2 linked regions of the Homo sapiens genome follow. The protein of the gene in region 1 interacts with the protein of each later gene in a pairwise test. Each region holds a gene or a part of one and is shown on either strand. Other genes may lie near its edges.

The links.
Region 2: the proteins of AGR3 (region 1) and ASB10 interact in a two-hybrid assay, tested with the Homo sapiens proteins (one large-scale study listed by BioGRID and IntAct).

Annotation. Positions count from the first base shown.
Region 1 is NC_000007.14:16,875,320-16,879,142, forward strand, and holds part of AGR3 (anterior gradient protein 3 precursor), read right to left. Parts: intron 3,327-3,823; 5' UTR 3,300-3,326; coding exon 3,191-3,299; intron 1-3,190. UniProt on the Homo sapiens protein: Required for calcium-mediated regulation of ciliary beat frequency and mucociliary clearance in the airway. Might be involved in the regulation of intracellular calcium in tracheal epithelial cells.
Region 2 is NC_000007.14:151,176,953-151,180,775, reverse strand, and holds part of ASB10 (ankyrin repeat and SOCS box protein 10), read left to right. Parts: intron 1-3,823. UniProt on the Homo sapiens protein: May be a substrate-recognition component of a SCF-like ECS (Elongin-Cullin-SOCS-box protein) E3 ubiquitin-protein ligase complex which mediates the ubiquitination and subsequent proteasomal degradation of target proteins.

The sequences.
Region 1 (3,823 bases):
TGCTTATGCTGGACATTTCATATAAATGGAATCATACAATATGTAGGCTTTTGTGACTAGATTTTTTCACTCAGCATAACCTTTTTAAGGTTCATCCTTATAGTGCCATGTATTATTATTTAATTCATTTTTTATGGTCAAATATTATTCCATTGTATGAATATACCATATTTTATTTATCTGTTCATCAGTTAATGATATTTGGGTTGTTTCCACTTTTTGTCTTTTATGAATAATGATGCTATGAACATACATATACAAGTTTTTCAGTGGTATATATTTTCATTTATCTTGGGTATATACCTAGGAGTGGAACTGCTGATCAAATGGTCACTCTGTATTTAGCTTTTTGAGGAGCTGCCGGGTTATTTTCTAAAGTAGATGCATCATTTTATATACTCACCAGCAACATTTTTGTTTTTTGTTTTTTTTTGCCTGATTTAAAATCTTAACATTGAAAAACATCTCTTGTTAGTTTAATGCCACATCTTAACAGGAACTCTTGCTCTCTGTAATAATCCTGAAAGATTCTCTTTCCAACTTTGGTTGAACACATGCAATATCTATACATCACATTTTGCATTAAGTAAAAGTTATTCTAAAACAGCAAGTGAGACGAGGCCTCTGCTGAATTTTCCCTCTTCTGTTGCAAATATCATTCAATGATGGAGCATTAGCAGTGGGGAAAATTTCTATTCTCTGCTCCTGCTCAATTTAGTTCCACAAACAGTAAAGGAACATCTGCTGCATAACTTACTCCACAAAGCAGTGGGAATACAAACATAGAGCAATATAATCCCTATTCTCAACAAATTGTCCATAGCTCTGTAGAAAAGCCATATTGCATTATAATGATTTTTTATTTACTCTGTTATAATCACAATAGGTCAAAGCTGTTACACAGTTTAAATGCACTTCATGGCTTCTGCTCATTACTCTAATTCTAGCCCTATCTCTATCTCTGGCTATATTTTCTTGTCTTTTGAGATTTTATTCATTTATCTAACATATATTTATTAAATATTTACTATCCGCCAATCACTGGACTAGGTACTCAGCAATTCTGATTCAAAGGAAATTGGATTTTTTTTGGATCATTCTATGTGTGTGTATTTTTTTCTCCCTGAACCTTCTTCTACCTTTTTCTAATTAATCTTCCTTTTCTCCTTACTGCCTTCTCTACTTAACTAGTGCTGCCCTGTGCTCTAAGGGGCTCCATATGCCACTCTTTATACTGTATCCAGACTTCTCCCACTCACCCCTACCTTTAATCTTCATTCATTCTGAGCCTCATTCTCTCCATTATCTCCCATGTAGCAATAGATGGTAAAAGACTTTGCCAAATATAAACCAATTCTCAATAATGGTGTTCTCAGCTAATATCAGTCATCTTCTGTGTTAAATTAGTTTCTTATCAATTGAAATAATAGAACCTTTAAGTTGTTTAAAATAGGGCATACAAATGTAATATATTTTTTCAAAACATTCAACAAGAGTTTTAAATAAATATTTAGAAGTGAGCACACAGAATGTTGATGCCTTGACGTATAGTTATCACAGTGCTGCTTAATGCAGACATGGAAAATCTTTAAGGGCAATAACTAGTTTAGTCTTTGTCACTTTAGGGCTACTGAGCTCATTGTTTTACAACAGTTATGCTTATACAGAGAGATAGAGTTATGTTTAGGAAAATATTTCAACTTTTTCATTCCTTTCTTTTGCAAAAATATGTTGACTTTCTGTATATATAGATTGTGTGTTTGTTAAACTGAAGTAGAGTTAATTAGCTTAGGTAAACATTGATGAGCACTTGGCTGGCACTCAATACATCTGTTAAGAAATGAATGTACTTGGGAAGCAAGTCAGTGTTTTAGAATTTGAAATTATATAATATATATTTATAATTATAGCATATATTTATATATAATTTATTATAATATAACACAAATGTATACTATGATATATATTATATATAATATATAGTATATATAATATATAATTTGTATGTTATAATTATATATATTTTATATATATATCAGAGGTAGGAACAGAATTATTTGTTCCCACTTGGTTATTCAAAACTAGCAGTATTACTCCAAGGCACTTGACTACTATTTGCAGTGGTAATATGAATGGAGCAAACAAATGGTCAAGTACTTTGTGGTAATACTGCTGATTTTGAATAGCTATATGGGGACAAATAATTCTGTTCCTACTTCTGTTACTTAGAGATATAGAAACTAACTTTGAGAATATTTTCTTGGCCGGGCGCGGTGGCTCACGCCTGTAATCCCAGCACTTTGGGAGGCCGAGGCGGGCGGATCACAAGGTCAGGAGATCGAGACCATCCTGGCTAACACGGTGAAACCCCGTCTCTACTAAAACTACAAAAAATTAGCCGGGCATGGTGGCGGGCGCCTGTAGTCCCAGCTACTTGGGAGGCTGAGGCAGGAGAATGGCGTGAACCCGGGAGGCAGAGCTTGCAGTGAGCCAAGATCGTGCCACTACACTCCAGCCTGGGTGACAGAGCAAGACTCCGTCTCAAAAAAAAAAAAAAAGAGAGAATTTTTTTTAATAAAATGTTTCTTTACAGATGAATATATATTTGTTTCTTGGGCCAAGTAAAACAGTAAGTACAAAAAGAAATGTTTCTAAACATGTAGCCACCGGCAATCCTTGATTATGTCTAAAACCACTGTCTTCCAGAGTCAATATAGCAAAGACTTAGTTACCCCGAATTCTCAGAGTTTGGGGTATAGTATAATTTTCTGGGAAGGCTTATATAAAATTATTCCAATTTTTTTTTTTTTGGAGGACTGGGAAATAGAGGACTGGGAATTTGAGCAAATTTTGAGGAATCTTAAATTGCTATTAGGACACCAATATGACGCAGCAATCAATCATTATTTTCTAGGACTCTGGTTACCAAAGTTATAGACAGCGAGCCAATTCTCCATTATTTTGGCAAAAGATAATGCAAATTTATGTTATTGTTTGCTAGTTGATTTGATTCACTGCCTAAAATAAACTGATTCCTTCTGTTTTAAAAAATCCATTTTGAAGTCACACACAACAAAAATCATTCAGTTAGTTGAATTTGCTTTATAATTAGACTATGAGTGAAGACACCAGATATTTTAAAAAGCAATCCAAATGACTGAGTTTAGAAAATAAAATGAGATTACAGCACCTCTTGAGAGTGTCTGAGGAGGCCTCTTTTCCTTTTTTATTGCAATGGCAAGGTTGGAAGAAACTGTGACGAGTAAGAGGCAGAGACCCAAAGCTGAGTGTAGCATCATGTCTTCTAGAGACTCTCTCAGAAGAAGCTAGATGACAGAAAGGAATTCTCAGAATCCAGTGAATTACTTCAAGCTATTATTAGAAGATATTTGCTAAGAGTTGGACCAATACTGTGATGACAGACTGTTCAGCTTTTTTGGTTTGACATGGTATAACCAACCACATAGAACTTTCATTCACATTTTATTTTTAAAATACTTAATCAACTCAGTACATGCTCAGTTGGTGAGAAGTCATGTTCTGAGCCTCCTGGGCATGGTGCTGTATAATTAAAAAAGAGCTGGATCAGGGCACACGAAGCCTGCTTCTGAACCGCCCTGTAGTGTTCACACCAACAAGACGAAACTCAAATAAGATCATGTTGTTTGATGTCTTGTAAACTATGAAGTGACTTTTAGCATGCAGAAATATTCTTTGCCTTTTGATTCTCCTTCATCTAATAGGTCAAAATATTTTAACTCTATACTAAGATAAGATTATACATGAATAAATATTGCTTAAAATAGAAATCAGAGGAAAAATA
Region 2 (3,823 bases), about 130 Mb from region 1:
AAGACACAGATCAGTGGGAAATGTGTGTGTGTGCATGTGTGTGTGCATGTGTATACATGGTGTGCGTGTGTATACATGTGTTCATGCATGTATGTGCATGTATATACTGTGCATGTGTGATAAAGGCGGACTGGGGGCAGTGGGGCCAGATTAGATAAAGGATCCAAAAAGACAGAAGAAGTCAGGGCTGATGTGGGTGGTGGGCGTTGTTTAAGGGTCTTCATCAGCACAGCAAACTGATGAAAATAGCACTTGAGGAAGCTCCCACTAGCAGTGGGATCAGTTCAGTGACAGATGCAGGAGAGGCTGTCCAAGGGAAGAGGGTGAGCCTGTTTCAGGAGGCTCAAGGTCCCCTGAATGTCTGTAAATGGACATGGTCCCACTTTCTGAGAATCTAATAGGACCCACAGCCCCCAGAACAGCTGCCACTGTCCTGGCACCTGTGAACATGCCTTTCACTGTCAATTTCAATTTATATCCTACTTTATCTTAATTTCCCCTAAGTAGGTTCAACTTGAAGACCTGTGCTACTGATGCCCTGTGAGGGGGCCTTGCCCCATGCTGTGTCGTGTCTGGAGGGGCATAGATAATGTCATGGAGGGCGCTGGGTCTGGGATGGGGACATCCGTTCTCAGAGGAGATGGCTCAGAACCGAAACCACCCTCTGAGTAGGCAGTTCCCCTCTGGCTCAGCCCAGAGTGTTGTCCCACCCAGCCTTGCCTGTCCTGGGACCACCCCTGCTATCCCAGCCTCTCCCCTTTGCTCACAAACCTAGAAGCATCTGTCTGGATTCCTAAGCAAGACCAAATAATTAAACAGCCCAAGAGTTCGGCAGATTGGTCTCCCCTTTGGGAAAATACAAGAAAATCAACAATTAACACTAATTAATCTCCTATTAACACTAGATAATTAGGAGACAAGCAATTCCCTGTAATCTGACGGCAGCTCTGACAGCTAATGATTTCCCTGGCAGGCAGGGGCGGGAGGAGGGCCCGGCGCAGCGAAAGGGTTTCCTGGGTCCCCACAGCCCTGCTCCACCTCTCAGCCTGTCTCTGGGACCAAAGGGGCTGGCAGAGCAAAGTACCCCATTTGTCCCTTTCCATGATCTGCAGCCCTGCCAGCTGAGGGGTTTCTGTCCTCCCTGCACAGAAGCCTCCACCGCCCATCTGTGATGAAATGCCAGCCCCAGCTGGTTCTCTAGGAGCCACCACTTTAGACTTGGTGCTCAGGGGACCTGGATCCAGGATGTGACTTTGATGCTTGTTCGTATGGGTGTAGGCAAGTCACTGCATGTGATACAGCCTCTCCCTAACAGGATGGAAAGCTGTAGGAGAGCACTGGGGAACAGTCGGAGCAAGCACAGCCTTGACTACACACCAGGCACTGCTCTAAGCTGTATTTCCTGTTACAGGAGTTCCTCAGTCCTCCCAGCAACTTCTGAGTTCAGTGGTGACTAGGAGTGTAGGCTCTGGAGCCAGACACACTACCTGTGTGGCCTTCGGCAAGTCGCTGAATCTCCCTAGGCCTCAGTTTTGTCATCTGTAACATAGGGATATGATACTATGCCTTCTTCATAGGGTTACTGTGAGAAGAGTTAATACACATCAAGCCTAGTGCTTAACACTTGTTAGCTAGTGTTGTTCTTGTTATGTAATGTATGAGAAAGCACTTGGTAAGCTGCTTGGCATCATCCCAATGAGGGTATCATTGGACATGGGAGTGAAGCAGGTTGATGTAGCTGCATGGGCTTCCTGGAGGAGGCAGGACTGGGATGGGCAGTTTTGAAGGGAAGGAGGAGGAAGAGGCAGGCATTCCAGACACAGCGAGCTACTTGAGCCCAGTGCAGAGGTGGGGATCAACATGGGCCAGGAAGGACAGAGACGGGCCTGAGGGGCAGGTGGAGAGGAGAGTTGGAGAGAACCAGCCTGCTCTTCCCTAGCTTGGAGGAGGAGTGAGGAAAAGAGGCCTCCCGGGACAGACTGATGAGCACTGCTCAGATGCAGGGCTAGAAGCAGAGGCCCCAGGTGTGTAAAATGCTTTCTCCAGGGACCCCTGGAAGGCCAGGCCTTCTGCTCCCACTGCTCATTGGTACTCTCGTCTGACAGACAGAAGGGTCTCCTCTCCTTGCAGACAGAGTCTGTTAAACCCCCACCGCTAGATGCAATTGTGTTTGGCCACATGTGGGTTGTGTGTGAGATGCTGCCTGAAAGACAATACTTAGCTGTTTTCAGATCTCAAAAGGCTCTGTGGCCATCGCCTGCATAGATGCAGCGAGAGTGGAGTGCAGTGGAGGAGGCACAAATCTGCTTTAGGTACTGAGTTCAGGCACAAGCGGGTGTCTTAGTGCCAGTGTCTGTCAGGCCACTTTTCTGACCACGTGGACGGTCTGTCCACAGGCTGCTCCACTGCGTGGCTTGCCCGCTTGCTGCACTGGACCACCACCTCAGAGACCTTTCTTGGCCACTCCGTCTAGGACAGTGCCCTCCCCAACCATGCTCAGTCCCCTGACCCTACTTTTTTTTTTCTCTTTTGAGACAGGGTCTCATTCTGTCGCCCACACGTGCCGTGGCACGATCCCGGCTCACTGCAACCTCTGCCTCCCAGGCTCAAGAGATTCTCTTGCCTTAGCCTCCCAAATAGCTGGGATTAAAGGTGCATGCCACTACCGCCCGGCTAATTTTTGTATTTTTAGTAGAGACAGGGTTTCACCATGTTGGCCAGGCTGGTCTCAAACTGCTGACCTCAAGTGATCCACCCACCTCGGCCTCCCAAAGCGCTGGGATTACAGGCATGAGCCGCCACGCCCGGCTCCTTCTTATTTTTCATTGCAGCAGCAGATCTGTGAGTGATGACTTCTGTGTTTATTATGTTTTCCCTCTGAAATAGAAGCTCTTGGATGACGAGGACTTTATTTTCCCCACTGCTGGATTCGAAGTGCTTGGCACATAGTAGGCCCTCAATAAATAGTTGCTGAATGAACCAATGAAAGCATATATCTGGCTCCAACTAGGTTCCACCCCTGCTCCTACCAAATCCTCTCCTGCTCCTGCAGGCAGTCCATCAGCCTCAGGTTGCCTTGTCCCTTCTCCCTGAATACCCTCCAGGCTCTGGGGTTCCCTTGCCTCCAGAGCCCAGTCCTCCCTCTGTGAGTCCCCCACCCAGCCCCACCCCACTCCCTGGCCCCCTCTTGTAGCTGTCTCTACCCTCACTTGGCATTGGATGGATTCTGTGATCTTTTTATCTGCTCAGGAGCTCCAGCCACAGGTCAGGGACCCCTTCCAGCCAGCAGAAAACCCAGCCCAGAACCTTGTAGAGGCAGAGAGGAGAGCAGGATGGTGGTGTGGTTAAGGGCAAGGGGTCACGCTTCCAGGCCTGGACTGTGGGAACCACAACTTGGGCAAGTTAATTAACTTCTCTGTACCTCAGTTTCCCTTGGCTGTAATGAAGGAAATGGGATAATAACATGGGATATTAACAGTCCATCCCTTGCAGGGACAACAGTGAAGAGTTCATACATGTCAAGTGCTAGAAATCATCTGGCCTGAGTTATGCACAATAGAAAGGTTAGCTGCTGTATTGGCTTCCTGGATCAAATGAAGTACCACAAAGTGGGTAGCTTAAAGCAACAGAAATGGAGTTCCCTTACAGCAGTGGAGGCTGGAAGTTTGAAATGCATATGTGGGCAGGGCTGGCTCCTTCTGGAGCTTCTGAGGGAGAATCTGTTCCATGGTGCTCTTGTAGCTTCCAGTGGTTTCCCACAATCCTTGGTGTCCTTTGACTTGTACATGTGTCACTCCACTCCACTGTCTGCCTTTGTCATCAC